Regions from separate parts of the Homo sapiens genome. Here regions 1, 2 and 3 are each linked to region 4. Evidence: fine-mapped expression QTL. A gene starts in region 4. Each other region holds a variant in brackets. All regions are shown on one strand. Distances are from middle to middle.

Region 1 (8,107 bases), 200 kb after region 4:
GAGCCAACAGAAGCCTGTGTCATTGCATTGGCTGGTTGATCCCAGTGGACTGGTGAAAGGGTTTATGAAGTGTTTCAGAACTGTCTGCCAGGGGATGAAATGGAGTGCTTTTATCCACTGACTCCAGATCTTCACTGGTCTAGACTGGCCCTCACAAGACTAACTCCCCTGCACTGCTGGGTTGTGCTTGAGTGCAGAGTGGATTTCTAGAACTATTAACCAAGATTAGAGATGGCTAGGGCAGGAAGCAAGAGATCCCTATGAGGGTCAAGGTGAGGCCACTGTCCTAGAGCACCTGTGCCAAGCTGCTCAAAGCCTCCAGGAAAACAGGTGTCTACAGCTGTGGCTGAAATAAGAGGAACAACCCAAGAGGACTTTGAAGTGGTGCACACGAGGGGTCCAATACAACAACTCTAATGGGGATGTCCTGTCTTTTTGCCTGGAAAGAAGATGCTAAAATAAAGAATTCCCTGGAGTGTCTTTGGCCTTTCAAGTCTATGATTCATGGAGATAAAACCAAAATTTGCTAAAAATCTGTTGATTAATAAAATATAAATAGACACAGCAATAACATTTGCTAATTTTATTCTCCAAATGATACCTGTCAGCTGTAGACAATGTGTGGAGCAAAAGAGAGCTATACTATCTACTTACTGGACAACAGACCTAACTTAGGCGGTGGTGATATATGCTGAAAACAAAGAGAGCAGTGCTTGGGCTTCAGGAAAATCTAGTGGAAAGTTGAGTTTATTGATCCTTAGGAGCACAACCTTTACCTGGGTCTTAAGTGGGTTTTATAATGATTAGGAAATCTTATTAAAGAAGAAACTTCGGAAGGGGTTCTGGGTGCTTTTAGAACAAAGGAGAGGACATAGGGAATATTTCCAAGTCAGCTTGGACCCAGACAAAATTATAAAGTGGATTAAGTTTGTTTTCAGCCCCTTTCTGTCCACCATTTCTCCTCATGTCCCCACATTCACTTCCCCTCCATCAGTGTCCCCCTTTAGGAACCTAGTACCTAGTATCATACTGGCCTGCTTAGATGCCTCTATGCAATCAACCAGTTGATTCTTATTGATACTTCCAATGTACCTAGAACCTTGCCAGGAATTGAATATGAGAACACCCCACATAAACCTTCCCCAAATGGCCTATCCTCCAGTCTCAAGTCCTGCCCATGATGGTAGATAATTTAAAAGGCTAATTTATATACATTGTGCCCAACACCTGTTTATGCACCACTCCAGAGCCTCGGCCTCCCCATCTCTTGTTCCAGCTCTGTGTGGGCCCCAGCCAATTTCACACCAGTACCCCTCTCATCTCCCACCCAACACTCCCATGTTGACATCACTGCAGACTCCACTAATGCCCACGCTCTGGAATGCACAATCCAGAGGAGCAAGGGGGTGAATCTTAGACCAAGCACATCCCGGGAGTAAGTTCTTCTCCCTTTCCCCACTCCATCACAGGGCTGGTTCTGAGCTCCCATTTATCCACCTTCTTGGGAGTGTGGTCTGTGGATTGAGCAATCAGTCACACTCGGCAGCTCAGTACTCCTCCATATTGGCTCTCCATCCTTTCCAGCATCTCTCCCCTTGTACCTCATTCCTCCCTAAGAGTATAGTCCCTGATAAAATAACAACCCATTCATTTTTTTCAATAAATACTCTTTAGGTGTTTACTGTGGGCCAGGCACTGACTCTGGCACTGTGAGTACAGAGATGAACTTTTATATTCAATGACTTATCTGATATTAGATGTTTTCTCAGAAGCCATATTGTTTAATGCCCTTTCTTGGACGTCAGGAAATTCTGGCCACGTGGTGGAGGGCTCCGCTTGCCTGAATGGGTTAAGGATTAGAAATGGTTTGAGAAACGGAATAGGAAGCAAAACTAGACAAAATCTCTCAGGACCAGGTTCTGAAAGCAAAGATATCAGGCACTCTTCCTCATGGAAATTGTCTGAGCCTCCAGACAATTAAGAGGTTTATTTTTCAAAAAGCTTTTTTAAAAATTCAAATTTTATTTTAAGTTCTGCGGTACATGTGAAGGATGTGCAGGTTTGTTACATAGGTAAGTGTGTGCCATGGTGGTTTGCTGCACTTATCAACCCAACACCTTGGTATTAAGCCCTGCATGCAATAGCTATTCATCCTGATGCTCTCTCTCCCTCCACCCGCCGACAGGCCCCAGTGTGTGTTGTTCCTCTCCCTGTGTCCATGTGTTCTCATTGTTCAGCTCCCACTTATAAGTGAGAACATGTGGTGTTTGGTTTTCTGTTCCTGCAGTAGTTTACTGAGGATAATGGCTTCCAGCTCCATCCATGTCCCTGCAAAGGACATTATCTCATTCCTTTTTATGGCTGCATAGTATTCCATTGTCTATATGTACCACATTTTCTTTATCCGATCTATCACTGATGGACATTTGGGTTGATTCCATCTCCTTGCTATTGTGAATAGTGCTGCAACAAACATACACATGCATGTATCTTTATAATAGAATGATTTCTATTTCTTCAGGTATATACCCAATAATGGGATTGCTGGGTCAAATGGTATTTCTGGTTCTAGGTCTTTGAGGAACCACCACACTGTCTTGCACAATGGTTGAACTAATTTACATTCCCATCAATAGTGTCAGAGCGTTCCTGTTTCTCCACAGCCTCACCAGCACCTGTTGTTACTTGACTTTGATTTTTAAAAAGGCTTGTTAACCAATTATTCAACAGTTCATTTAGCAAATTTGTATGGATTTAAGTGGTACTTCAAGAAGTTCACAATTTATGGAGTAAAAGAATCAACACTCATTTTAGGAAGTGATGAGTATGCTTATAAAAGTACACGAGTTCTTTAGGAGAGGGTTAACAAAGACATTTTCCTCTAGAGAAACTCTGTCCAATAGAATTTTCTGTGATGATGAAAATGTTCCACGCTGTGTTGTCCCAACACAGTAGCCACTAGCCAGCCCCATGTGGCTGTTGGGCACTCAAATTGTGGACAGTGTGACTGAGGAACTGGATTTTTAATATTCATTAATCTTAATTTGAATGTAAGTAGCCACATTTGACTAATGGCTGCTGTTTTTGACAGTGCAGTTCTAATGGTTGACATTTTAGTGGAGTCTCCAGGAATAAGTAGGTGTTATCCAGGCCACAAGGAGGATAGGAACCAAGTAGAAAGTGGAGAAAGCAGACTGGGTCGAGAGAACAACAGTGAACATGGACATCAGAGTGCTTGTTTGTTAGGCTTTTGTCACCATTTACTAAGGGTCCACTAAGCTCCTGCCACATCGCTATGCTCATTCCATATTTATCTCAACAGCCCCGGAGGTAGGTAAATTAGCCCCGTTTTACAGGTGAGGAAACTAAGGCACACAGAGCTTGTTGAACATAACCAATGCAACACAGCTTGTAGGTGACAGCACCAGGATTTAAGCTAGGCTCTGACTCAACAGCCTATCCTCTTTTTACTTTATCATTTTCCCCCACGTGGGTCTGTCACATGGGAAATTTGGGCTTCATGTCCTTATAGGCAAAACTGTTCTGAATTGGGGTCTTTCCCTAGACAAGAATGTATGGTGTAAAAAGAAGGAGGAAAAGGAGTTGAGAGGGCTGGTCAGAAAAATGAAGGGTGGCCCATGGGACCTAAGCTGGAAAGAGAAGGAAGTGAAGAATAGAATTTTTGGAGAGTGGGAATAATGTGGAGCTGAAGGACCAGGGGCAGGAGGAATAATTAAGAGAAAGCACCACACGCAAGGCTGTTGTGGTCAGAGGGAATTATTGCCATTTTAGCGGGCTTTCAGCCAAAGGACAACCTGGAGCATGTTTCGGCCCTGAAGCTGAGGGTGTTAACTGCTGAAGGAAACTGGCAGAATTTCC[A/G]TCAGAGCACACAGACAGCCACCTCCTCCAACAGGCAGAGACCCAGACTCCTCTGTGTGAGGAAATGGACTTCTCAGAAACTAAGTCTGAGCTTGCTTTCTTTTATAAATCTCTACTTTTGGTGGCTTATTTTTGCTTAGGAAGATAGAAGTCAGTAGCGTTGACTTTGAAAAGTGTTCATAATCCTCAGCATGCCCGGTGAAGTGGAGACAAAGAGGAGGCAGTGTGGCACGTGAAGAAGAGAAGGGTGTGAACGCTCTCATCTGAGACGCTTGATGAAACTGATCCTCTCTGCCTGACTTAGGTTTAATAGCTCACATACCTGTGAATGTGAAGTTAAAAGCAATTTTGATTTGAAATCAAGGTTATGTAGAAATGAGTCTTAATATATCATAAAAATCATTTCAAGAAATCCTGAAAATTGTCACGAACCCTTATTAAGGAAATTGATTTGCAGATGATGATAGAAATAATTTTTTCATGAAAATGACAAATGTAGCTTATTTTCATTGACATTTATTTTCATTAGAGTAGGCTGCTGTCTACACTTCTCTTAAAACCACTCTTTCAATAATACATTTAGATTCATATGCTAATATATCTGCCATTTCTCTCAGTATCGCTTAATACTCTGTGTTTAGAAACAGGTATATTGAATTTATACTGGGACTAGAGTATTATATTTGAAAGCACTTACCCGGGGCAAAGGCTATGAATGTATCCTCTGAAAGGTGTCTTGATTTGGAAAGCACAGGATGTTCCAGTTAACTTTCTTATTTATAGTTTTTTGAAGTATAACTTATATACCACAAAATCTACCCATCTTAAGTGTAGTTTGGTGAGTTTTAGTGCATTTTTAACAGCAAACTTCATCCCAATCTAGCTACAGAACATGACTGTCGACTGACAAAGTTCCCTCCTGCCTGTTTATAGTCAGTCTCCTCTCCTACCCCAGGCCCCAGCAGCCACTAATCTGTTCTCTGATTCTATAGTTTTGCCTTTTCTTCCTTCCTTCCTTTCTCTTCTTTTCTTTTCTTTTCCTTCCTTCCTTCTTTCCTTCCTTCCTTCTTTCTTCTTTCCCTCCCTCCCTCCCTTCCTTCTTTTCTTTTTCTTTTTCTTTTTCTTTTTTTTTTTTTTCGACAGTCTTCCTTTGCCACCCAGGCTGGAGTTCAGTGGCATCATCTTGGCTCACTGCAACCTCCACCTCCCGGGTTCAAGTGATTCTTGTGCCTTAGCCACCAGAGTAACTGGGATTATAGGCGTGCACTACCACACCTGGCTGTATTTTTAGTAGAGACTGGGTTCTGCCGTGTTGGCCAGGCTGGTCTCAAACTCCTGATCTCAAGTAATCCGCCCGCCTTGGCCTCCCAAGGTGCTGGGATTACAGGTATGAACCACCATGCTGGCTATACTTTTGCATTTCTAAAGATTTCATATAAGTAGAATCATAGATGGTCTTTTGGGTCTGGCTCCTTTTACTCAGCATAGTTGTTTTTTTTGTTGTTGTTTGTTTTTAGTATTTATTGATCATTCTTGGGTGTTTCTCGGAGAGGGGGATTTGGCAGGGTCATAGGACAATAGTGGAGGGAAGGTCAGCAGATAAACATGTGAACAAGGGTCTCTGGTTTTCCTAGGCAGAGGACCCTGCGGCCTTCCGCAGTGTTTGTGTCCCTGGGTACTTGAGATTAGGGAGTGGTGATGACTCTTAACGAGCATGCTGCCTTCAAGCATCTGTTTAACAAAGCACATCTTGCACCGCCCTTAATCCATTTAACCCTGAGTGGACACAGCACATGTTTCAGAGAGCACGGGGTTGGGGGTAAGGTTATAGATTAACAGCATCCCAAGGCAGAAGAATTTTTCTTAGTACAGAACAAAATGGAGTCTCCTATGTCTACTTCTTTCTACACAGACACAGTAACAATCTGATCTCTCTTTCTTTTCCCCACATTTCCCCCTTTTCTATTCAACAAAACCACCACCGTCATCATGGCCCGTTCTCAATGAGCTGTTGGGTACACCTCCCAGACGGGGTGGCGGCCGGGCAGAGGGGCTCCTCACTTCCCAGAAGGGGCGGCCGGGCAGAGGCGCCCCCCACCTCCCGGACGGGGTGGCTGGCCGGGCGGGGGCTGCCCCCACCTCCCTCCCGGACGGGGCAGCTGGCCGGGCGGGGGCTGCCCCCCACCTCCCTCCCGGACAGGGCGGCTGGCTGGGTGGGGGCTGCCCCCCACCTCCCGGACGGGGCGGCTGCCGGGCGGAGACGCTCCTCACTTCCCAGACGGGGCGGCTGCCGGGCGGAGGGGCTCCTCACTTCTCAGAGGGGGCAGCCCGGCAGAGACGCTCCTCACCTCCCAGACGGGGTGGCGGTCGGGCAGAGACACTCCTCAGATCCCAGACGGGGTCGTGGCCGGGCAGAGGCGCTCCTCACATCCCAGATGGGGCAGCGGGGTAGAGGCGCTCCCCACATCTCAGACGATGGGCGGCCGGGCAGAGACGCTCCTCACATCCCAGACGATGGGCAGCCAGGCAGAGACGCTCCTCACTTCCCAGACGGGGTGGCGGCCGGGCAGAGGCTGCAATCTCGGCACTTTGGGAGGCCAAGGCAGGCTGCTGGGAGGTGGAGGTTGTAGCGAGCCGAGATCACGCCACTGCACTCCAGCCTGGGCAACATTGAGCACTGAGTGAGCGAGACTCCGTCTGCAATCCCGGCACCTCGGGAGGCCCAGGTGGGCAGATCACTCGCGGTCAGGAGCTGGAGACCAGCCCAGCCAACACGGCGAAACCCCGTCTCCACCAAAAAATACAAAAACGAGTCAGGCGTGGCGGCGCACACCTGCAATCCCAGGCACTCGGCAGGCTGAGGCAGGAGAATCAGGCAGGGAGTTTGCAGTGAGCCGAGATGGCGGCAGTACAGTCCAGCCTCTGCTCCGCATCAGAGGGAGACCGTGGAAAGTGGGAGGGGCAGGGGGGGGAGGGGGAGAGGGAGAGGGAGAGGCTCACTCAGCATAGTTTTGAGGTTTCATCCATGCCGCATGTTGTTGCATATATCAGTAGTTCATTCTTTGTTATTGCTGAATACTTTTCCATTATATGAATATACCACATTTTGCTTATTCTTTCATCCGTTAATGGGCATTGGATCTGTTTACAATTTTTCATTATTATAAATAATGCTGCTATATACATTTGCGTACAAGTCTTTGTGTGGTTATATGTTTTCATTACTCTTAGGTAAAAGAGTAGAATTGCTGGATTGTATGGTAAGTGAGTGTTTAACTTTTAAGAAATTGCCAGGTTGGGCATGGTGGCTCATGCCTTTAATCCAAGCACTTGGGAGGTCCAGGTGGGTGGATTACTAAAGCTCAGGAATTCGAGACCAGTCTGGGTAATATAGTGAAACCTGGTCTCTACAAGTAATAAAAAAAACTAGGTGGGTATGGTAGAACATATGCCTGTGGTCCCACCTACTTGGGAGGCTGAGGTGGGAGGATGGTTTGAGCCCAGGAGACAGAGGTTGCCCTTAGCTGAGATCACGCTATTATACTCCAGCCTGGGCAACAGAGCTAGTTCCATCTCAAAAAAAAAAAAAAAGCAAAATTGTTTTTTCAGAATGGCTATATGTTTTTATGTTTCCATAGCAATATGTGAGGATTTCAGGTTCTCCACAGCCTCACCAACACTGGACATCATCAGTCTTTTTGAATACAGCCATTCAAGTGGGTGTGTGGTAGTATCGCATTGTGGTTTCAATTTGCATTTCCTTAATGATAAATGATATTGAGCATCTTTTCATGTGCTTGTTAGATATTTGTATATCTTCTTTGGAGAAATCTCTAATGAAATTTTTGTCCATCTTTTTATTGACTTGTTTTGTCTTCTTAGTTTTTCTACATGTTGTAGATACAAGTCCTTTATTAGATATATGATTTGTAAATAGTCTGTGGCTTGTCTTTGCATTTTCTTGTTGGTTTCTTTTGAAGAGCAACTGTTTTTAATTTTGATTATGTTAAGTTTATCAGTTTTTTTCTTTTGGTGTCATAGCTAAGAAATTTACCTAACTAAGGTTGCGAGATATTCTCTTATGTTTTATGCCAAGGATTGAAAAACTATTGACTTTTATTCTTTAGAACAATAATTAACAATCGCCTGGACGCCACAGCCAGGGATTTGGCAGTCTCTGGTAGCTTTGTGGTTTCGTGGTTGGGGTAGTGATAGGAGCAGGAGGCTG
Region 2 (8,107 bases), 250 kb after region 4:
AGAAGAAAGCCTAGAACTAAAAAAGTTTTATGGTGGCTCATGTGAGCCTGTAATCCCAGCACTTTCAGAGGCTATGGCGGGCGGATTTCTTGAGTACAGGAGTTAGAGACCAGCCTGGGCAACAGGGCAAAATCCTGCTTCTACAAAAAAATCAACAAAAAATTAGCTGGTACAATGTATGATTTTCTCAGGAATGCATACAAAATGGCAATAAATGATGATACATGCTTGATACTTTTGCACCATGTTTTGCAGCTCAGAGTTTTTGTGTCCATTTATGGAAGTTTAAAAGTGTCCCTGAGATCTAGACTCAGTGAAACTGACAAGTGGAAGGAACCATCCATCTAGCCCTTCAGCAGGGAAAATGGGGAAGCTAGGGGATAAACCCTCAAGCTTGGCAGCCAGAGTGCAATACTATGCAAGGAAAATTGAGATGTGGGTGGATGACATAAGCAGGGGAGGATTAAATAATGAAGCTGATTTTTCTTCTTGATTTGCTCAGCTTGTTGTCCTTCCAAACCAGCCATCTTAGTCCATTCCTGCTGCTATAACAAAATGCCTTAGACTGGGTAATTTATAAACAACAGAAATATATTGCTCACAGTTCTGGAGGCTGGAAAGTCCAAGATCAAAGAACCAGCAGATTTCATGTCTGGTGATGGCCTGTTCCTCACAGATGCTGCTATGTGTCCTCACATGGTAGAAGGAGCATACGGGCTCCCTCAAGACCTTTAGAACAGCACCAATCTCATTCATGAGGGGGAAACCCTCATTTCCTGATCACCTCCCAGAGACCCCACCTCTTAACCTTGGAGTTAGGTTTCAACATGAATTTTGGAGGGACACAAATATTCAGACCATAGTACCAGAGTATGCAGTGCCTCTGAGGGAACCTTGTAAATCCAGTCATCTTAACAGCTTTGAAAATACACTCATAACATAATAACACTCCCCTTTTAAATTACATTTTTGTGGGGAGAATCAACCATAAAAGGCCTGCTTTGGGGGTACAGAGTAGTAATAGCAGAAAGAGTAGTTCCTCTTGTAACCCTAAATTGTCTGAGTAGGTAGAGAAGAAAGAGTTAGGACTAAATGTCTCAAATCAGATCAGCTCATCTCTTCCATCCCAAAAGTCTTCTTTAAGGCCCCCTGAGACAGAAAAAAGGAGACTGAGAAGACAAGGCTGGAATTCCATAGCTCCTATAGATCCAGGGTCGCTCACCCTCTGGTGTGCCTCAGAGCAGTCACTCTAGTGGACGTGCAGGGAGAGGAATACCACATGGTGTGGCAGCAAAGCAAGGAGCCCGGCACCACCAGGCCGCTCCGTGGTGCTGGTAGCAGGTGCTGCATGTTTATACCAAGGTACTGTGAAGCTTCCCTGGAAGGGGTCTTTCTCGACATCTGGTGGCCAAGCTGAAAGTGGATTACCATTTGGACATCTCATAACTAAAAGATGATGAGCCAGCGGGGCCTCTGCACAGCTTTCTGCACGATGACCCTGCAAAGGTACAGCTGTGCCCTGCCCCTGGCCTTCTGCAGCTGGCCCATCTGCAGCTTCTGCTGAGTGGCCACATGGGTGGATGCTAAGTCTTCAACAGCTAAGTTCAAAGTGAACCCTGCATGCCCCCACTGTGTGTTGATCTCCCCTGATCCAAAATAATGAGAGAATGAGGGGGGTGCAGAAACTATCCAAAACATTAATAGACATTTAAGGAGCCCTGTGCCGCTCTCTTTTTCATCCCCTTCTTGGTAATTGTCCCATGAATTTAGAGGCCCCTGAAGGGAATTGCCTTTGAGGGTTAGGGACCATCCTGGAAACGGAGCACCAGTGCTTGCTTCCCATCTGGAGTTTGCTGACTTGTGCACCCCACATCTAGCACGGCTGGGAGACGGGGGAAGGATGACAGGGAGATGCAGAGAGGTGAAGGTAGGAACTGAGGGCACAGTCTGCCACCATGTGTGACAGGGCTGAATTAGCACAATGAAGACTCCTTGCCTTCATCATGGGGTCCTAGCATAGGCGCCAGAAGTGAGCTGGGAGCACAAGCTGGCTTGCTGACAGCACTTTCTATCCAAGAGACTGCAGAAATTGCAGGTGGACCAGCTGCTGCGGGTGAGGCACAGGAAACAGCTGTGCTTCTGAACTACTGTTGTCAGGGGCTGTGCAGTGTCCCCTCCAGGTGCCTGAAGTTTGTCTCCTGTGCCACACAACAGAGATACAGTCAGGGGACCATACTGCCAGGTACACAGCCTCCCCACTCCTGACTTGCAGGCGAGCACCTAAGGACACTGACTGTCTCCTTTCGCCTCTGCAGGCTCTGGCTGCCGAGTGCACATAAATACTGTAAAAGGAGAAGCTGGTTCAGGGAGGGGAATGGTAAGAAGGGTTCTTTTAGCAAAATGCAATGTTATTGATCTGTGACTGCATTTAAGACCTGAAAGCTGTTGTTTTAAAAAAAAAAAACTGGAAAAATTAACTCCAAAAGTGTCTGGGCTTTTATTTCATTGTCTCCTAAAGCTTTACCCTTCCCCCATCCCCAGGACTGGCCAGATTACTTAAAGCTTTCCTTGAAGCAAAAATTACAGGCTGTATTAAATAAATGTGGAAATTTCCCAAAACCACCTAAAATAGTTTTAAAACAATCTACAGAAGTCAGATAAAAGAACACAGCTGCAGAGAACTAGTGCTGAAAGAGAGCTTTAATTTTATTGTGTAATGGGAGGGTGTGAAAATAGAACCCAGGACCAGAAAGAAAATGAACTTGCTATTGGCAGGATGGGGCAAAGCATTTCCCTGCTCTACCCTAGGAGGTTGCTTTTCAGGACTTCAAAGCCACACTGAGGGGGGTGTTTTTGAGTTCCTTTTTCTTCCTCTTGGTCTTCCCCACTGGAGAGCCTGTGCCATTCTGGTGGTGGTGCCCAAGGCTGTGGCCACTGTGATTCCTATCTCTGCAGGAGAGTCTAACACTTGCAGATCCTTGATAGTTTCCAGCGTGCGTTGTATTAGGTCTGTCAGACTCTTCTGCATGAAACGTGGATAAGATCACACCGTTATTGTGTTAAAAGGCCCCTGTCCTCTCAGGGATGAGGAGGGAAAAGAACTAAGAGAATGAGAATGGGCAGAAGACCTCTTCCTGGCACTGTGACATATTTTTCTCACAATGAAAGATGTTGAAAGCCAGGAATGTAAGATAAGCACCAGGAGAATGGAGGACTGGTCCAGGATATTCCTGGGATTTCATCAAGGCATCCTCCCTTCTTCCTTTTCACAAAACTAAGGGGCTCAGTGGCATCCTCTTGTAGGGATGGAATAAGTAAATGAAGAGGGAAATTTAACTCTTCTCCCAGAAATGTGTTCTACATTATGCCCAAATGTTCACGTTCCAGGAAATGTTTACAAAGTTGACTAACTGAGAAAACCTGAGCAGTAACCTCATTTGAACAAACCAGTACATGCTGCCATTTGTAGTCTCTCATCTCCAAAATGCATAAAATACTATATGATTAGCCTGTTTCACAAAGTTCTTTTTAAAATGAAATTATGCAGTAAATGTAAAAGCATTTTAAAGATTGATCGTACTCTGTTCATGTAAGATGGCATGATTATTATTATTATTCTCATTATCTATATGTTGAAAGTGTTTATATTTTTACCTACCAACATCAGGAGAGTTGGGTTATAAGTATTTTCTGAAGGCCATCACCCCAGTTCTGGACCTTATCTTTGTGGCTTTAAGTTATTTGTAGGGATTCTGTGCTTTTAAATTTCTTTCTCCAGTGTTTATTGACAGCAGATGAAGTTGGTTATTCC[T/C]AGAATTAATGATTATTCCTCTGGATAATTTGGATTTGCATGCTAGAGAGTTACTCTACCCACTAGCCAGCCCATCCAAAGGCTCCAAATGTCTCTACATTAGTGATTTTACTCTGTGTCCAGCTACCAACCGAGCCTCCATATGTCACCGTGACAGTTCCTGGGTTTGTTTGCATTTTTTAAACAAGTACTTAAGGAAAACTCCCATGGAGAGAGGTCTGCTTACTCATTGTTATTACCTAAAGGGTTTATTTTGTTCCTAAATACCTTGCCAAAAATAAATATTTGAAGACTGCTCTATTTAGCATATATAAGGCAGATACAGTCAGATGCCTTTCAGGTAAAAAAATACCTTCCCAAAGAGTTGATAGCAAAGAAAAGTGCAACTGAGAGCAACAGAAAAGCTTTCTGACATGGTTTGTTTGTGACTGATGAGTCTCCACTTGGGGAAAATTGTCCTACTGACATTGTTGAGCTTTGCCCTCCAAGTTCATGGTCGTGTAACATTATTATTATTATTGTGGTAAAAACACATAACAAAATTTACCATCTTAACCATTTTAAGTGTACAGTTCAGTAGTGTTAAGCATTTTCACATTGTGCAACAGATCTTCAGAACTAGAGCCCTTTAGCCATTAAATATCGCGTGGTGGTGTAACTTTTAAAAACTCAATACATTTAAGGAATTTGAGGAACTCTTATGTAGTCTGCCACCCATCCAGAGAGATTCGGCCCAGAGCTCTGCCTGGGATTCATCACAGTCTAAAATACACAGCCACTCTATTCCACTGCCTGGAACATCCACAGAGATGCGGTCAGGGTGGGCACATGGTGGGCACCGAGAGTGCCCTGAAGAGTCCCAGCACTGAGAGCCCAAGTGCTGGGTCCAGAAGTGCTAAGAATCTTTTTCTTTTTTTTTTTTTTTTACCGACCTTAAAAATTTAGTTTGTTTCTCTACTTTATTCTTGTATTATTTTTTATTTCCATAGATTTTTGGGCAACAGGTGGCATTTGGTTACATGAATAAGTTCTGAGATTTTGGTGCACCGGCCACCCGAGCAGTGTACACACTGTACCCAATATATAGTCTTTTATGCCTCGCTGCCCCCCACACTTTCCTTTGAGACCCCAAAGTTCAATATATCATTCTTATGCCTTTGTGTCCTCATAGCTTAGCTCCCACTTATGAGTGAGAACATATAATGTTTGGTTTTCCATTCCTGAGTTACTTCACTTAGAATAATGATCTCCAATTCCATCTAGGTTGCTGTGAATGCCATTATTTCATTTCTTTGTATGGCTGAGTAGTATTTCATAGTGTGTGTGTGTGTGTGTGTGTGTGTGTGTGTGTGTGTGTGTGTGTGTATTTCTTTATCCACTCATTGATTGATGGCATTTGGGCTGGTTCCATATTTTTGCAATTGCGAATTGTGCTGCTATCAACATGTGTGTGCAAGTATCTTTTTTATATAATGACCAGAAGTGCTAAGAATCACTGACAGAGAACAAGTCTCCAGAAATGCTGCTTTGTGTTCCAGCACCCCTTGATGAGGCAGTAGGTGAGCATCACTGAGACTGTGTGAGTCAGGCCCCAGTCATACAAGACTTGGGATCTGGGACACATGGGCTGCCCTAAGTTACACTGCATTTTCAGGGTCCATGGCTGCCCTAAGGTACACTGTGTTTTCAGGGTCCATGGCTGCCCTAAGGTACACTGTGTTTTCAGGATCCATGGCTGCCTGCCACAGCTACAGTTCCCTTTCTAGGCCAGTGTGTCATATCCATCCTCTGCTGTCTTTTATCAACGAATCTATATACCCTGTTGAAGGAATTATGACTTGTATTTGTCTTTGATTTGGAAGAACATGTTCCTTAAGGCAATTTTGAAATTATTAGAGTCATAAATAGGAGATGTAAGCTAAGAAGTCAATTCAAAGTATCTCGACACCCCCACATAACTAGTTGAACAACCTGGAGTATCTAAGATGATTTCATAAATGAGTTACTGATGGTAATCAGAGTGTTGAACAACTGCTTTTTTGTTACATTTTTCCTTGGGAATGAAGACGTTAATCAGTCCATGAGGAGTAACTTGTAAGTTAGAGTTTTAATAATCCTTGGATGCTAAAAACTTATTCTGAACTTAAATGTATGGCGAATTTTTAAAATATTCTAGTCTAAAACATCTAAAAGACTTTTAGGCTATAAATGTGATACAGTATGTGGTAGACAGAATAATCCCTCCTTCTACCCCACCCCGCCATGATGTCTACATCCCAATCCCTAGAAACTATGAATATGTCACCTTACATGGCAAAAGGGAATTTGCACATGTGATTAAGGTTAAGGGCCTTGAGATGGGGAGGTTATCCTGGACTATCTAATTTGGGCCCAATTTAATTACATGAGCCCCCAAAAGCAGAGTGCCTTTTCCGGCTTTGGTTGGAAAGAAAGGTGACTATGGAAGAATGATCAGAGAGATGCAACATCGACAGCTTTGAAAATGGAGGAAGAGGACCATGGGCCAAGGAATGTGGGCAGCCTCCAGAGGCTGGAAAAGGCAAGGACATGGATTCTCCCCTAGAACCTTCAGAAAGCGACGCAGCTCTGCTCACGCATTGGTTTTAGAGCAGTGTGACCCATGTCAGACTTCTAACCTACAGAACTGTATGACAGTAAATTTGTGTTGTTCTAAGCCACTACATTTGTGGTAAGTTGTTACAGCAACCGTGGAAAACTATTACAGAATGAGGGAGCCAAATACTTCGAGTTTGGGTCATAAAACAAGGATGTACTATGGTTTGGTTGATTTTTATTACAGTGGGTTAATAAACCACAGATGAAACAAATTTTTTTTTATTTTAAAAGTGATAAAAGAGTCTAAATACAGTGATGAGTGTGTCTTAGATGCACATCCTTTTCCTTTCACCAAGGAAAAAGAAATGGTGCTTAGAAAGAACATAAAGTCTTCTTAAATGCTTCAAGTTGCAGGAGCAGTTTAAGAGAAAAGGTGCTGTTATTTAGTTTTGATTTTGATCATCGTGCTGAGACAGAGACCTAAATCCCTCTTAGTGTACTTCTAAAGCAATATAAGCTCAAAGCCTAAAGTGTATCGTTCACAGAAAGGAATTCATCTCCAATCTCACAGAAGTTCCAAATTGCTGGGCATGCCCGGGACTAAATCCTCACATACTGTGTTACCCAGCCAGTTCTATTCCACTTCAGTAAGGATCAAGCCTGTTCCTAACGTTTTAATACTTGAGAGATTTAGCTGAAAACATTGTCTTCAAGAGGAATTTACACAATTTATTTATACTTCAGCTTCAAGAATATCCACAGCAGAAAATTAAATATTTTCACATTTGGTTATTAGCCCCGTAGTGTTTATGTATTTGTTGATTTATTTATGTCAAGAAGAGGCTCCTAAAAGGAACAGGTTTGAACAAGCTGGAGTGTTTCTATATTTTTTACTAGCTTTTGCTATTTCCTCTTGATCGTTAACTTTTTTTCTCCTAAATAACCACAATCTCTTGAACACGGCAATGTTTTCCTGAATTTGTAATGCAATTTTCACCTAAACTTGTAAGAGTTTTTTTTCTGCATCTCTCAAAATAATACTTGGTGTTCAACATGGCACATGTATACATATGTAACAAACCTGCACATTGTGCACATGTACCCTAAAACTTAAAGTATAATTAAAAAAAAGATACAAGGGGCAAGTGAATGGAAAGGTCTTTAAAAAAATAAAAATAAAAATAAATAATACTTAGTGTTACAGAATCAATCGACTTAAGACTAAATGAATATTGAGCACATACCCTTGCTAATATATAACTCAATTCTGAGAAGGAAAATGTTCTGGTTTCTGCCTAAATTCTAGTCTTATTCTTACTGCATGTACTTAGAGCAGTCTTTATTTATGTCCTACTGACTTTACAAGCTTAATATACATCTTTTAAGCAAATAGGAATAAATACTTTCTATTTTTACATCCAAACAGTTGCCCCTGATGACCCCAGCAGAAAAATAGATGGCGATACCATTATTTTTTCAAATGTTCAAGAAAGATCAAGTGCAGTCTATCAGTGCAATGCCTCTAATGAATATGGATATTTACTGGCAAACGCATTTGTAAATGTGCTGGGTAAGCTCTCATTTTATTAAAGACATGGCAAATTAAATTAATGACTGCTGTTATTTTCTGTTCAATCAGCAAAAATATATTGAGCATCTACTATGTGCAATGCACAGTACTTGGAGCTATAAGGGATGGATAAGATATAAACCTTGCCC
Region 3 (8,107 bases), 240 kb after region 4:
GTCAAAGGCTTATAGATCAAAGTCCCATCTCTCTGGGACAGAGCACCTGGGGGAAGGGGCAGCTGTGGGCGCAGCTTCAGCAGATTTAAACATTCCTGCTGCTGGCTCTGAAAAGAGCAGCAGATCTCCCAGCACAGTGCTCGAGCTCTGCTAAGGGAGAGACTGCCTCCTCAAGTGGGTCCCTGACCCCCGTGCCTCCTGACTGGGAGACACCTCCCAGCAGGGGTCGACAGACACCTCATACAGGAGAGCTCCGGCTGACATCTGGCAGGTGCCCTTCTGGGATGAAGCATCCAGAGGAGGGAACAGGCAGCAACCTTTGCTGTTCTGCAGCCTTCGCTGGTGATACCCAAGCAAACAGTGTCTGGAGTGGACCTCCAGCAAACTCCAGCAGACCTGCAGCAGAGGGCCCTGACTGTTAGAACAAAAACTAACAAACAGAAAGAAATAGCATCAGCATCAACAAAAAGGGCGTCCACACAAAAAACCCATATGAAGGGGTCACCAACATCAAAGACCAAAGGTAGATAAATCCACAAAGATGAGGAAAAACCAGTACAAAAGGTCTGAAAGTTCCAAAAACGAGAATGCCTCTTCTCCTCCAAAGGATCACAACTACTCACCAGCAAGGGAACAAAACTGGACAGAAAATGAGTTTGACGAATTGACAGAAGTGGGCTTCAGAAGGTGGGTAATAGTAAACTCCTCTGAGCTAAAGGAGCTTATTCTAACCCAATGCAAGGAAGCTAAGAACCTTGAAAAAAGGTTAGAGGAATTGCTAATTAGAATAACCAGTTTAGAGAAGAACATAAATGACCGGATGGAGCTGAAAAACACAGCACGAGAACTTCGTGACGCATACACAAGTATTGATAGCTGAATCAAACAAGTGGAAGAAAGGATAACAGAGATAGAAGATCAACTTAATGAAATAAAGTGTGAAGACAAGATTAGAGAAAAAAGAATGAAAAAGAATGAATGAAGTCTCCAAGAAATATGGGACTATGTGAAAAGACCAAACCTACGTTTGATTGGTGTACCTGAAAGTGACAGGGAGAATGGAACCAAGTTGGAAAACACTTTTCAGGATATTATCCAGGAGAACTTCCCCAACCTAGCAAGAGAGGCCAACATTCAAATTCAGGAAATACAGAGAACACCACAAAGATACTCCTCAAGAAGAGCAACCCCAAGACAAATAATCATCAGATTCACCAAGGTTGCAATGAAGGAAAAAATGTTAAGGACAACCAGAGAGAAAGGTTGGGTTCTCCACAAAGGAAAGCCCATCAGACTAACAGCGGATCTTTTGGCAGAAACCCTACAAGCCAGAAGAAAGTGGGGGCCAATATTCAACATTCTTAAAGAAAAGAATTTTCAACCCAGAATTTCATATCCAGCCAAACTAAGCTTCGTAAGTAAAGGAGAAATAAAAATCCTTTACAGACAAGCAAATCCTGAGGGGTTTTGTCACCACCAGGCCTGCCTTACAAGATCTCCTGAAGGAAGCACTAAATATGGAAAGGAAAAACCAGAACCAGCCACTGCAAAAACATAACGAATTGTAAACACCATCGACACTATGAAGAAACTGCATCAACTAACGCGCAGAATAACCAGCTAGCATCATAATGACAGGATCAAATTCACACATAACAATATTAACCTTAAATGTAAAGGGCTAAATGCCCAAATTAAAAGACGCAGGCTGGCAAATTGGATAACGAATCAAGACCCATCAGTGTGCTGTATTCAGGAGACCAGCCTCATGTGCAAATACACACATAGGCTCAAAATAAAGGGATGGAGGAATATTTACCAAGCAAATGAAAAGCAAAAAAAAAAAAAAAAGGCAGGGGTTGCAGTTGTAGTCTGATAAAACAGACTTTAAACCAGCAAAGATCAAAAAAGACAAGGGTATTACATAATGGTAAAGGGATCAATGCAACAAGAAGAGCTAACTATCCCAAAAATATATGGAGCCAATACAGAAGCACCCAGATTCATAAAGCAAGTTCTTAGAGACATACAAAGACACTTAGACTCCCACACAAAAATAGTGGGAGATGGCCAGGCGCGGTGGCTCATGCTTGTAATCCCAGCACTTTGGGAGGCTGAGGCGGGTGGATCATGAGGTCAGGAGATCGAGACCATCCTGGCTAACATGGTGAAACCCCATCTGTACTAAAAAAAATACAAAAAATTAGCTAGGCATGGTGGCAGGCACCTGTAGTCCCAGCTACTTGGGAGGCTGAGGCAGGAGAATGGCGTGAACCCAGGATGCGGAGCTTGCAGTGAGCCGAGATCGCACCACTGCACTCCAGCCTGGGTGACAGAGCAAGACTCCATCTCAAAAAAAAAAAAAAAAAATAGTGGGACACTTTAACACCCTGCTGTCAATATTAGACAGATCAGTGAGACAGAAAATTAACAGGGATATTTAGGACTTGAACTCAGCTCTGGACCAAGCAGACCTGATAGACATCTACAGAACTCTCCACCCCAAATCAACAGAATATACATTCTTTCCAGCACCACATCACACTTATTCTAAAATTGACCACATAATTGGAAGTAAAACACTCCTCACCAAATGCAGAAGAACAGAAATCATAACAGTCTGTCAGACCACACTGCAATCAAATTAGAACTCAGGATTGAGAAACTCATTCAAAACCACACAACTACATGGAAACTGATCAACCTGCTCCTGAGTGACTACTGGGTAAATAACGAAATTAAGGCAGAAATAAATAAGTTCTTTGAAACCAATGAGAACAAAGACACAATGTACCAGGATCACAATGTACAGCTAAAGCAGTGTTTAGAGGGAAATTTATACACTAATGTCTACAGGACAAAGTGGGAAAGATCTAAATTTGATACCCTAACATCACAATTAAAAGAACTAGAGAAGCAACCGAAACAAATTCAAAAGCTAGCAGAAAACAAGAAATAACTAAGATCAGAGCAGAACTAAAGGCGATAGAGACATGAAAAACCCTTCAAAAAATCAATAAATCCAGGAGCTGGTTTTTTGAAAAGATTAACAAAATAGACCACTAGCCAGACTAATAAAGAAGAAAGAGAGAAGAGTCAAATAGACACAATAAAAAATGATAAAAGGGATATCACCACTGATCCCACAGAAATACAAACTACCACCATATAGAGTATAGAGAATACTATAAACACCTCTACGCAAATAAACTAGAAAATCTAGAAGAGATGGATAAATTCCTGGACACATTCACCCTCCCAAGACTAAACTAGGAAGAAGTCAAATCCCTGAATAGACCAATAAGAAGTTCTGAAATTGAGGCAGTAATTAATAGCCTACCAACCAAAAAAAGCCCAGGACCAGATGGATTTACAGCCAAATTCTACCAGAGGTACAAAAAGGAGCTGGTACCATTCCTTCTGAAGCTATTCCAAGCAACAGAAAAAGAGGGTATCCTCCCTAACTCATTTTGTGAGGCCAGCATCATCCTGATACCAAAACCTGGCAGAGACACAACGAAAGTAGAAAATTTCAGGCCAATATCCCTGATGAACATTGATGCAAAAATCCTCAATAAAATACTGGCAAACTGAATCCAGCAGCACATCAAAAAGCTTATCCACCACAATCAA[T/C]TCGGCTTCATCCCTGGGATGCAAGGCTGGTTCAACATATGCAAATCAATAAACATAATCTATCACATAAAGAGAACCAGTGACAAAAACCACATGATCATCTTAATAGATGCAGAAAAGGCCTTCGACAAAATTCAACAGCCCTTCATGCTAAAAACTCTCAGGACTATTAGTAATTGTTTTATAAATTTAGGAGCTCCATTGTTAGGTGTATATATGTTTAGGATTGTGATATTTTCCTGTTCGACAAGGCCTTTTACCATTATATAATGTCCTTCTTTGTCTCTTTTAACTGCTGTTGCTTTAAAGTTTGTTTTGTCTGATACAAAAATAGCTACCCCTGCTTGCTTTTGGTGTCCATTTGCATGAAATAACTTTTTCCACTCCTTTATTTTAAGTTTATGTGAGTCCTTATGTGTTAGGTGAGTCTCCTGAAGGCAGCAGATAGTTGGTGGTGAGTTCTTATCCATTCTGCAGTTCTGTATCTTTTAAGTGGAGCACTCAGGCCATTTACATTCAATGTTAATATTGAGATGTGAGATACCCTTGCATTCATTGTGCTATTTGTTGCCTGTGTACCTTGGGTTTTTTATTTTTTGTTTTTGCTTTTTGAATTATATTTTTGTTTTATAGGTCCTGTGTGATTTATGCTTTAAAGAGGTTCTGTTTTGATGTGTTTCCAGGATTTGTTTTAAGATTTAGAACTCCTTTTAGCAGTTCTTGTAGTGGTGGTTTGGTAATGGCAAATTCTCTCAGCATTTGTTTGTCTGAAAAAGACTGTATCTTTCCTTCAAATATGATGCTTAGTTTCGCTGGATACAAAATTCTTGACTGATAATTGTTTTGTTTGTGGAGGCTGAAGATAGGGCCCCAATCCCTTCTAGCTTGTAGGATTTCTGCTGAGAACTCTGCTGTTAATCTGATAGGTGTTCCTTTATAGGTTACCTCATGCTTTTGTCTCACAGCTCTTTAGATTATTTCCGTCATCTTAACTTTGGATAACCTGATGACAATGTGCCTGGACATCTTTTTGAGATGAGTTTTCCAGGTGTTCTTTGTGCTTCCTGTATTTGAATGTCTAGGTCCCTAGCAAGGCCAGAAAAGTTTTCCTCGATTATTCCTCCAAATGTGTTTTCCAAACTTTTAGATTTCTCTTATTCCTCAGGAACACTGAGTATTCTTAGGTTTGGTCATTTAACATAATCCCAGACTTCTTGGAGGCTTTGTTCATATTTTCCTATTCTTTTCTCTTTGTATTTGTTGGATTGGGTTCATTGAAAGACTTTGTCTTCAAGCTCTTAATTTCTCTCTTCTACTTGTTCAGTTCTATTGCTGAGATTTTTCAGAGCATTTTGCATTTCTATAAGTGTGTCCAATGTTTCCTGAAGTTTTGATTGTTTTTTCTTTATAGTGTCTATTTCCTAGACTATTTCTCCCTTTGCTTCTTGTATTGTTTTTTGGATTTCCTTACATTGGGCTTTGCCTTTCTCTGGTGCCTCTCTGATAAGCTTAATAACTAACCTTCTGAATTCTTTTTCAGGTAAATCAGGGATTTCTTCTTGGTTTGGATCCATTGCTGGTGAGCTAGTGTGATTCTTTGGTGGGTGTTAAAAATCCTTGTTTAGTCATATTACCAGAGTTGGTTTTCTGGTTCCTTCTCATTTGGGTAGATTCTGTCAGAGGGAAGGTCTAGGGCTGAAGTCTGTTGTTCAGATTCTTTTGTCCCATGGGGTTTTCCCTTGATGTAGTACTCTCCCCGTTTTCCTATGGATGTGGCTTCCTATGAGCCAAGCTGCAGTGATTGTTATCTCTCTTCTGGGTCTAGCCACCTGGCAAGTCTACCCATCTCCAGGCTGCTATTGGAGTTTGTTTGCACAGAGTCCTGTGATGTGAACCATCGGCCTCTCCACCATAGATACCAGCACCTGTTCTGGTGGAGGTGGCAGGGGGTTGAAATGGACTCTGTGAGGGTTCTTAGGTTTGGTGGTTTAATGTTCTATTTTTGTGCTGGTTGGCCTCCTGCCAGGTGCTTTCCAGAGAGTATCAGTTCTGGTAGTATGGAGAGGAACTGGTGGTGAGTGGAGCACTAGAACTCCCAAGATTATATGCCCTTTGTCTTCAGCTACCAGAGTTGGTAGAGAAGGCCCCTCAGGTGGGGGTAGGGCTAGGTGTGTCTGAGCTCAGACTCTCTTTGGGTCTTGCTGTGGCTGCTGTGGGGGAGGGGGTGAGGTTCCCAGATCAATGGAGTTGTGTACCTAGGAGGATTAAGGCTGCCTCTGCTGAGTCATGCAAGTTGTCCCTCTGCTGAGTCATGCAGGTTGTTGGGGAAGCGAGGGAAATCCAGCAGTCACAGGCCTCACCCAGCTCCCACGCAAACCAAAAGGCCAGTCTCACTCCCACAGTGCCTACCCTAACAGCCCCAAGTCTGTTTCCAGGCAGTGGGTGAGCGGGGCTTGAGAACTTGCCCCAGACTATCCACCTCCCAGCGGCAAAAGAAAAGGGCTTAGTTCTTCCCCAGCCTATGGAGTCTGCATGCTGGATTCATGCCCTTTCCCGAGTTCTGGCCAGGAGGTTTCTCGTCTGGTTCAAATTGTTATAAAGTTCAGCTGGAGACTTCCTTCTCCCTGTGGCATTTTCCCCACACCTCTGGCTGCCCTCCTGAAGGATCTCTGTGGTGCCAGGCAGGAATGGCCTGCTTGGGGACCCAGCGAGCTCCCAAGGCCTTTCCTGCTGCTTCCTCTACCCCTGTATTTCACTCAGCTCTCTAAATTGACTCAGCTCCAGGTAAAGTCAGAAACTTCTCCCACAAACCAGTTTTTCACTTCTGCAGTTTGGGCACTCACAGTATTTGGGATATCTCCCGGGTCCTGCAGGAGCAGTCCAATTCCTTCAGAGAGTCTGTGAGTCCTTTCAGCAGGTTTGTTCTTGCAGTTATTCTGGAGCTAAAATTCACGATGCAAGCCTCCACATGCTGCTCTGTCCATCCGCATCAGAGCTGCAATGTAGTTCTGCCTCCCATCTGCCATGATGATCCCTTCTGGGCTGAGCTGTTCTTATTCAGAGTCACTTGCATTTCTATTGACAAATATTGTTATCTTCCTGAGGGCCTGGACCATATTTTCTTCATCATCTTCCCAACACACAGCTCAGTGCTTGGTGTATAGTTCAGTACTTAGGAAATTTTTGTGTTGAATGGATTTTTATTTTACCTTCATGAAAACTTTCTAAAGTCATTAGTTCAAGTCAAGCATTATTATCCCTATTAAGGCAACTAAGGAAACTAAGCCTCAAAAAGATCAGAAATCCAGGGACAGGGTTGGAATTCTAAAGATCTTCTAACTCCAAGCCTATATTCTGACTTTTCATCTGTCTCCATATTCCATGACAATAAAAAACACAGTTGGGACCAGGCGCGGTGGCTCACGCCTATAATCCCAGCACTTTGGGAGGCTGAGGCGGGTGGATCACAAGATCAGGAGATCGAGACCATACTGACTAAAACAATGAAACCCCATCTCTACTAAAAATACAAAAAATTAGCTAGGCATGGTGGCGGGCACCTGTAGTCCCAGCTACTCGGGAGGCTGAGGCAGGAGAATGGCGTGAACCTGGGAGGCGGAGCTTGCAGTGAGCTCAGATCGTGCCACTGCACTCCAGCCTGGGTGACAGAGCAAGACTCCATCTCAAAAAAAAAAACAAAACAAAACATTGGGTGACAAATGGTATGAGTAATACCTAAGTTTGATCTATTCTTAATTAGTGTAATAATATTTTTAAATGTCACTAATAATGAAACTAAGGAAAAAAAGCTCTTTCCCTTATTACTTAGTTAACATCATCAGATAGACTGCTGTAAAATAGGAAAATTATTCCATTTGATATGGAAATGTATACAAAGGTTTATGGTCATAGATATGTTTATGAGTTTTTCTCTGTACATGTTTAATCCCAGCTGATGAAAAATTATAATTCAGTATCATTAATATAATAGTAATTCTTTTGATTAACATAGTAGCTTCATGTAAAAATTTCCAAGAGTTCCTTATTAGTCACAACGTTGAAAAAAATAATTAGGCCCCATCAGTAAAGCAACTCATGCTGGCATTCATACTGTATCATTGACATCGAAGTTTATGGTGTGCCATCAATTAGTATAGTTCTGATTATGTGAAAACGTAAAACTGTGAGCATTATTTATAAAAGTGTGGTGCTAATTAAAATATCTATGTATTTCTTATGATTTTTTAATAAAGATTTGTTACAAAGTTGCATGAAAATTCATCCTCAAAAGTAGTCATAGGTGGATTCCTTTTTTGTAACATCATTATTTATTTATCCTATCAGGCCTACCCCAATTATTTACTGGGCAAAGGAAGATGGAATGCTACCCAAAAACAGGACAGTTTATAAGAACTTTGAGAAAACCTTGCAGATCATTCATGTTTCAGAAGCAGACTCTGGAAATTACCAATGT
Region 4 (8,107 bases):
AGGCTTGGTAATAGGGAGAGGATAAGGCTTAGGGATGGGAAAGGGATAGCAGCAGTTAGGGTAAGGAGGCAAGTTGTGGGTATCACCAGCAAAGTGCAGCCAAATCAGACTGCCTCATGCATCACCAAGCAGATCAAACAGACTGCATTAGAAAGTCTATTTGCCCACACCGCCATCTTTCTAATTGTAGAACATTTTTCTATCCCCACCTCCCATACTCCCTTCATTTCAGCTCCTCTTGAAGCCTCAGTTTGTTCTTCCTGTTGCTCATTCCCTCAGGAGATGAATCCCCAGCAATGTAGAGCTGCAGTGCAGTTGAAGTAATAAGCTGGAAATCAGAACTATATAATAATTTTATATTATTACAATTATTATGTAGTATCAAAATTACTTTCTGTTTTTTGAGACGGAGTCTCACTCTGCCGCCCAGGCTGAAGTGTAGTGGTGTGATCTCGGTTCACTGCAACCTCTGCCTCCTGGGTTCAAGTGATTCTCCTGCCTCAGCCTCCCCAGTAGCTGGGATTACAGGCACACACCACCACGTGTGGCTAACTCTTGTATTTTTAGTAGAGACAGGGTTTCACCATGTTGGCCAGGCTGGTCTCGAACTCTGACCTCAGGTGATCCACCCACCTCAGCCTCCCAAAGTGCTGAGATTACAGGCATGAGCCACCGTACCCAGCCCCAAATTACTTAATTTTAGTTTTTGTTTTGTACTATCACTGTGGTTCCTATCTTCTCCAGAGCTTTTTCTCTTCTGGCTTTGTACTTTTTATTCAAGCATGTATTTACATTACAGACATCTTATCAAATAATTACTGCTTAAACTAGAATTTGCTGAGCACCTATTATGTCCTAGATACTGTCCAGTGCTTTCTTACAATAACCTTATGTATTAAGTATTGTTACTCTACCTGTAAAGGTAAGGGAAACTATACCTGAGAAATCATCACTCACATAAAAAAAAAAGAGAGAGATTCTATTCATGTCCTTATTCTTTCAGCAACCCCCAATAGCCTAAGTAGTCTCCCAGGCATCAGGACTAACCTGGACTTCACCAGGACCAAATATCGTCTGCCTCAACCTGGCTTCATAGACCAGGACTGGAGCCTGAAGAGAAAGAACAATTCTAAGCAGAAGTTCAAGGAGCTGTTTAAAGAGGGTCTTTATGAGATTGTAACACAGGAAGACACAAGCAATGTTGCTTCAGTGCCCGGGGGATAAATTACTACACAGAACCAGGGCAAGAACTGAAGAGAGTAGGGTGTCATTTTCCCACTTGACAGGTTTGCCCTGTGGCATTCACTGGAAAATAATGTGGACCAGAAATCAATGTTTCTCAGTGGCCGGGGTGAGGGGCAATCTTGGAAAACCAGAGTACGAAGTAGAAGGACATGGGAAGGACAGGCAAGACAACCCCAGGATTCTCAGCAATTACTGCAGTGGGGAAGGAACGGAGGGGCCTCAAGTCCTTTACACAGGGCAAAATGATGGGGCAGTGAGAGTTGATTATGGTTATCTGTGGCTTCATTTGTATTGATGAGAAATGTGGTTACACAAAAATAAATAAGACAAATTGTCCTCAAAGAAGTGAAATTTTATGGAGTCAGACATGCAAACAGATCATTAAAAGGTGACCAGCACTATTATAATAGTCCTTACAGAGGAGGTAACAACCAAGTAAGGCTCTGAAGGATGAACAAGAGTTTGCCAAATGAAAAAGAGATGGACCAATATTCTAGCTAGGAGGAACCTCACATGCAGAGGCTTAGAGTTATGGAAAATGGAGAGATAAGTTAGGAGCAGATTGTAAAGAGGCACACCAGGAGATGTGGAATTTACTTTGTAGGCAATAGAGAACCAGCCCACCAGCCCAGACTTTCAAGTAGGGGGATCATGGAATCTTTTTTTTTGCGGGGGGGAAGGTATTTTAGAGGAAAATTTGGACAATTAGTTGAGAGGTGCAAGGTACCACCTGAATGGCAGTTGGGTAAGGACTAGAGTCAGAAGAACCACTGATGGGACTGTGGAAACAACTTGTGCAATGACCCAGCAGCCAGATATCATGCTGGTTCAGGAACCGAGGGAGGCTCTGTGAGGCCAGAGCACATTTGGCTGGAGAAGGAGGAGAGGATGGCAGTAGAAGGAGAAGGAAAAGAAGGCTGCTCACTTGCATGCAGATGCTGTGAGCTGACGGGGCAAGTTCAAATTGAAGTTAGAACAGACCACTGGGGTAGTCAAGACCTTGAAGGATGAACCTGTTTCTTTTTCATTCCTGAATCTTGCCCCAGCACCTTGGAGGCTGGGGGTGGAGGAGGTGGTGAGGTGGGGTGGGGTGGTGAGGAGCTCAGAAAATGTTTTCCTGAATTAGAGAACTGAAGGAATCAAGGCTCCGCTGAGCTCACTAAGCGCTGGAGCCTGCTGTAAGTGGTCAAGTCGGGTGATACCCAGCAGACAAGTAATTTGTGTGCAGACCGGAGTAGATTACGGAGGACCCAAGGGTCAGGCTAAGGATCCTGAACACCATCCACGATAGAGTGGAGACGTGCGCTTCGGAGCCTGAACTATGCAGCAAGCAGTGTGTTTACTCAAATACTATACAGTTGGAAAATCTTAATTCTCGATTTACATTGCCAAAAAAAAAAAAAAAAAATCTCCATAATACTCCCCCATTTGTAAATAAGCAAATCCGAACTAACCCTATTCCTTGGGACCAGAAGACCCAGTTTCTACCGCGGATAGATAGCATCCGCCTTATGCTAAAAGCTCTTTTTTCTGCGGTGGTGGGGGGCGGCGGGGAGTGTTTGGAAAGAACGGTTGCAAAAACAAAACAAAACCCCCAAAACCACTCACCCAATCTCAACCACCCCAACTGATGAATTTCGAAGAAAGTGCTTTTTAAAAAAGAAAAAACTAGAAGACCACAGACCTCCCACAGAAAGCTAAACCCATGAGAGTGGCATTCAAAAACTACCCATTTTCTGGAACATCTTTTGTAGCTAAATCCCAGCCATCCTAGCCCCGGAACACTCCCGCCCTCCGTCCCCGCACCCCCACCCCCGCCGCCACACGCGCTCGCAGGCTGACGGAGGTTGGCGGTGGGGCGGCCGCTCAGGTGAGGGGCCACCCAGTCCCTCGAGGCGCCGGCGGCTGGAGCCCATTCGCTGCCGTCGCAGCAGCAGGGCAAGAGGGGGTTGGCCAGGAGGGGAGGAGGCGGAGGACGCCCGCAGGGAGTGCGGGGGAGGGGGACGGGAGGACGCTAAGGAGAGCCGGGAGGGGCAAAAGCACGGCGCGGGGAGGGGGAGCGGAGAGGGCGGGAGCGGCGGGGGCGCGCGCCGGCGCGGGGCCAGCCTCGCTTCGCCAGGGTCGCTGGCGGACGCGCGCCGCAGTCCGAGCCTCAGACGCGCGGGCGCGGGGGACGGCGCAGGGGCCGCCTGGCTGGAGCAGCCAGAGGGGATAGCTTCGTCGAGAACGGAGGACACCGGCGGTCCAGGGTCCTGGGCAGTCGCGCCAGAGCTGAGCGGAGGGCGCGGCGCGAGAACGTAAGTAGCTCCTTGCGCGTCTGGCGGTGACACTGGGTCCTGCTCGGGGGTGACGGCTGGAGCGGAGGAGGACGCGCGAGGCTGCTGCGTTGTCACTTGGACACCGCCGCGGGGTTCAGCCGAGCGCTCACCGGGCTGGCAGCGCTGCAGGAGGGGCAAAGCAGATCTCCAACTCCCTTCTCCCCTGCAGGCCCCCGACACTCCCGCGGGCGCCGAGAGGGAGCAGGGGGACCTGCGCTTGGGTGAAGGCACAGCTGAAATCCAGCAGCGCCGGCACCCACCACCCCCTCCAGCCTGTGGCCAACTTCTGCTCCGCGCCCGCACCCCACGCTTTCCGGGAAGCCCTGCCCAGAGCTCTTGCTCGTGGGCAGTTGGGCATGGAGAGCCTGCGGGCCCGGCACGGCGGCTTCCCGGGCTTGGACACGGAGGCGCGGGGCGTCACGCCACAGTGCCGGCGGGGCGAGGAGCGCGGGGGCCGGGCCGGGAGCGCACGGGCGTGTGCCTGTTCGGGCCCCTGCGGACACGTCTGGGCGTGGGCTTTGTTCGGAAGTGCGTACACCTGTGCTGACCACGGAGTTCGGGGGCGAGGCCGACTTCGCTTCTCCAGTCGCTGCCTGGAGAGGGCTCGGGGAATCGAGGCGGAACGAGAGAGACACGGAGGACAGAGGGGTGGGGCGCTTGCGGGGGCTTTGTCGGCCTTACAGGTGCGGGTCCCGGGAGTCCCTGCGCCCCGCCCTGCCTCCGAGGGCTGGGACTTGTCGGGGCCGGCGCACCGGGCTGGGGGCTGCCTGGAAAGATTGCTTTCCCAGCCCAGGCTCTTAGCGGTGGGATCTGGCATCCGCTCCGCCCGGGATGCTGTGTTGAGCCAGGAGTGATTACCCGCCCTGGAGCATCCATCTCGCAGCGAGCGCCATCTGCGCCGAGCGCCGCCCCCGGCCCCCTCCACGCCGCGCGGGTGGGCGCTGCCGCATCCTGGTCCCAGGCGGTTGGCCAGCTCAGCTACTCCCGGCCCGCATCTGCTAGAGTGCGGAGGGGGACGGGGTGTCGCAGTAGGGTGAGCAAGGGAGTCGTCATTTCTCCCAAAGCGGTGTCCTCAGGGCCGCAAGCGCTGCTGGAGGGCTCCCCGGGCCCCGGGGCTGGCGAACAGGCCGCTTCCTTCCCCGGATCGCCTCCCCTCCCGCCCGCGCCCGCGGCCACATCTTCGTCCCCCGTACGCTGGCGGGTGGCCCCTGCGCCGCGGGCACCGAGGGAGGGCGCCGAGCGGTGGCGTTTCTTTCGCACCCCGCCTCTCTCCTTCCCTTTTCTTCGCATCAGGGGCTCCAGCCCTTGGCTACCACCGGCGCAGAACTGTCCTGAGAAGAAAGCTTTCTTTTCCTTTCCGAGTCCCAGATGGTTAACGCTCAGAAGTGCGGGTCTAAGAGACTGGGCTCTTCCTCGCCCCAGGCTTTTGCAGGAGGAGATGGAGCCAAGTGTAATGAGGCAGGAAGCATTGGTTGTGCACCAGGAGCTCCCCCTGGGGTGGTCCTGGAAAGGAACACAGTAACCTCTGAATACAAACCTCGGAGGCTGGGCTGCTTTATGGGACTGCATTGTGCTAACCATGCCCTGCTGTTAAAATATTGTAATAATGGCAGTACTTGCTGAAGTACTGAAATGGAGTTAGGCAACTGATACTTGCTGCTTTAATGGTAACGATAGCCAACCGGTTTTGAGAGCTTTAGATGTGCTGGGCGCTGCGCATGTTACATGTATCATCTCATTTAATTCTCACAGCAACCCCATTTTAAAAATTAGGAAATGAAGGCTTAGAGAAACCAAGTAACTTTCCCAAGGCCACACAGCTAGGAAGTAGGGGAGTGGGATTGTTTTTGTCCTTGTGCTTTACAATCCAAGACTGAGACTGTGGCCTTTTGGAGGCTTATCAGTTTAGGGGAAACCTAAACCACTGAGTGTTCAAAACCAGGGAGATACATTACAAGCCCATTTAATTCGGAGCTCTGCAGAACTCACAGTAGCAGGCAATATTGTGATTCAGAGAACTGTATTGTGGAATAGCCTTTTATTCCCATGTAACTCCTTTACATATTCTTTTATTCCTGTTAGCTTTTAAGTACGTGGCTGTTAACCCACAATCCAACCCATTACAGTCACTGAACAACATGTTCTTAGTAACCAGGGCCTCTGTGATTACATAGATGTTCCTGGCACATCATAAAGTTTCATAAAACTTTTTTTTCTTTAAAGAAAAGGTCCCCAGCCCTGAATGTCCTTTGTACACGGTTTTGACTGCAAATGAGTTACTCCTCAAATTGGATGTTGAGTTTGAATAGGACCCTAGCATCCAATCTTAGGAAATCATTCTATTTCCTAAATATATAGAAACATGTGGGGGCATTTATGAAGATGCTCCATGTTAACTAGTAAAAAAGGAAAATTTGAACCAAAGTGGAATCAGCTATTTCTGGAATAGCTTTTAGAATTATAATTAACTGATCAATTGGAAAAATTGATTTATTTTGCATTCATAATCCTACTGACTCATAGTCTTGTTTCAACCTTCTTTTTACTTTATTACAGGAAAGTTGCTAAACATTTTACATAATCCAGGAATTTTAGAGCTGTTAGAGGACTCAGGCAACATTGTATCTAACTAATCCTTCGAGTTTCAAAACAACTGCAATAGGGCTCAGCCTCGTAATGCAGGGTAGTGATGAGGTCTTTGGACTGAAGGCCATTGCCCTTACACCACATCATTTTTGTTAATGCTACGGTAACAGTGAATAGAAAGCAAAGCATCTTTGGAAATAGTACTTCCTGTGAGGCCAATACAACAATGATGGCAATAATCGCTAGGTGTAAGTGCTTCAGAAGTGTGAGGGGGTCCTGAGAATGTATACACCTGGGCTGTAGAAAATTTCAAGAATCATTTCAAATAATGCTTTCATGCAGGTGTAATTTTCCCTGTGTAACAGATTGAATATAAATAGACTCTACAGATATTATATTGTGTATGTACATAGGAGCTGTTGAATGGAACTCTACAGGAAGCTTTTCCGTTAAAAAGATTTCATTCATTCATTCCTTCATTCTTTAATAAATATTTACTGTGTTCCAGGCAGTGGGGATACAGTGGTGACCAAACAGAATATCTGTCCTTGGGAAGATTAATTCTAATTTTATCATCTAGCTACATACTTCATCACACAGAGTTTTTTTCACATATCACAAATGCATAGCCGATGAACTTGCACAAACTGAACACATTGACTTAACTAGCACTCAGATCAAGGAACAGTGTAATGCACATCTGAGAAAGCCCTCTTGTGGTCCCTTCCAGTCATTACTCACCCCAAAGGGTAACCACTGAGGCACTGAGGCTTTTTCCTTATATTCTCACCATAGATCAGCAGCTATTGGAATCTCATCCTCATTTTCAAAGAGTACCTACCATCTGAGAAGCTCGGTAACCCATAGCAAATTTAACTGGAATGTAGAGCTTCTAACATATTCTTTAGGAAGTTTTGTGCATTTGAATCAAAAGACTGCTTTACTTCAGTCTTCAGCTGTTGCAATGATTGATGAAGAGGAAGTGATTTGAAAATTACTAAATACATTTAGATATGCTTTTCCCTTAAAATTTTATGCTTCCCTACCTGAAGCATCCCTTCCAGGAACCTTCCTGGCAGGTGAGGACAGAGGAGAGAACTGGATGCTAAGGGCAAAAATCCAGTGACTTATTTTACTTAAACATTTTACTGCCTTGGCAAATGAAAAGCTCCTTCTGTTTAAAACAGCCTCTATTGGGATCAAAGGCTGAAGTTTCTTCCCCCCCCCACAGCATTAATGAGATATAATTGACAAGTAAAAGTTGTATACATTTAATATGTACAACATGATATTTTGATATATGTATACATTGTGAAATGATTACCACAATCAAACTAATAAACACATCTATCACCTCACACAGTTAATTTGTGTATGTGTGGTGAGAACATCTCATCTCCCCAATTCCCCTACCCACTAGCAATCACCATTCTACTCTCTGCTTCTATGAGTTTGACTGAAGTTTCTAAGAATAGGAAGATGTACCAAAATGAATTGACAAATTTTTATTTTTTCTCTTAAAATTGAAGGCTACCTGAGGAAGGAAATAGGGGAATGGCTCAGCCTTCAGCGTCAGCAACTGTAAATCCTTCATTATCAGGTTGTCTTTAAATGGGGCAGCAAATGCAATATGTTTATTTAAAAAATGTTTTTGCTAAGTTTTTTATTGTAAAATATATATGACATAAGATATGCCATTAAACTATTTCTAAGTGTATACTTCAGTGGCATTAAGTACATTCACATTGTGTGCAGCCATCACCACTATACCTCTCCAGAACATTTTTTGCCTTCCCAAATTGTAACTCTGTACACATTAAACAATAGTTCATAACCCCTCAGCCCCCAGCCCCTGGCAACAAACATCCTACTTCCAGTCTATGAATCTGATGACCCTAAGTACCTCATATGAGTGGAATCATACAGTATTTATTTGTCTTTCTGTAACTGGTTTATTT

Which allele goes with the higher level. Alleles are on the strand shown, and positions count from the first base shown. SD is a standard deviation of normalised expression in the study named. Not every link is listed here.
With allele C in place of T in region 2, the expression in cerebellar hemisphere of the gene that starts at base 3,349 in region 4 is higher (moderate effect, 0.44 SD a copy in GTEx).
For the expression in cerebellum of the gene that starts at base 3,349 in region 4, allele T in region 3 goes with a lower level than allele C (moderate effect, 0.44 SD a copy in GTEx).

Evidence for each region. PIP is the estimated chance that this variant, and not a neighbour inherited with it, causes the effect. A credible set is the group of variants that fine-mapping cannot tell apart.
Region 1: its variant is the best candidate, but not a certain one, in a credible set for the expression of NRCAM in nasal epithelium (TOPMed, PIP 0.87).
Region 2: its variant is the best candidate, but not a certain one, in a credible set for the expression of NRCAM in cerebellar hemisphere (GTEx, PIP 0.67).
Region 3: its variant is the best candidate, but not a certain one, in a credible set for the expression of NRCAM in cerebellum (GTEx, PIP 0.63).

Annotation. Positions count from the first base shown.
Region 1 is chr7:108,253,915-108,262,021 of GRCh38, reverse strand. All of the region lies in intron 3 of NRCAM (neuronal cell adhesion molecule), which reads left to right. Among named protein-coding and RNA genes, the nearest start is that of LAMB4, 130 kb to the right of the region's middle. The variant A/G (reference allele first, on the strand shown) is at 3,880.
Region 2 is chr7:108,197,807-108,205,913 of GRCh38, reverse strand. It overlaps NRCAM (neuronal cell adhesion molecule), which reads left to right. Exons shown (of 33, transcript NM_001037132.4): 14 at 7,815-7,958. Among named protein-coding and RNA genes, the nearest start is that of LAMB4, 71 kb to the right of the region's middle. The variant T/C (reference allele first, on the strand shown) is at 3,812.
Region 3 is chr7:108,209,476-108,217,582 of GRCh38, reverse strand. NRCAM (neuronal cell adhesion molecule) reads left to right here. Exons shown (of 33, transcript NM_001037132.4): 12 at 7,978-8,107. Among named protein-coding and RNA genes, the nearest start is that of LAMB4, 83 kb to the right of the region's middle. RefSeq lists enhancers at 5,547-5,756, 5,877-6,076, 5,448-6,142, 5,283-6,482 and a silencer at 6,988-7,145. The variant T/C (reference allele first, on the strand shown) is at 3,634.
Region 4 is chr7:108,451,678-108,459,784 of GRCh38, reverse strand. It overlaps NRCAM (neuronal cell adhesion molecule), which reads left to right and starts at 3,349. Exons shown (of 33, transcript NM_001037132.4): 1 at 3,349-3,542.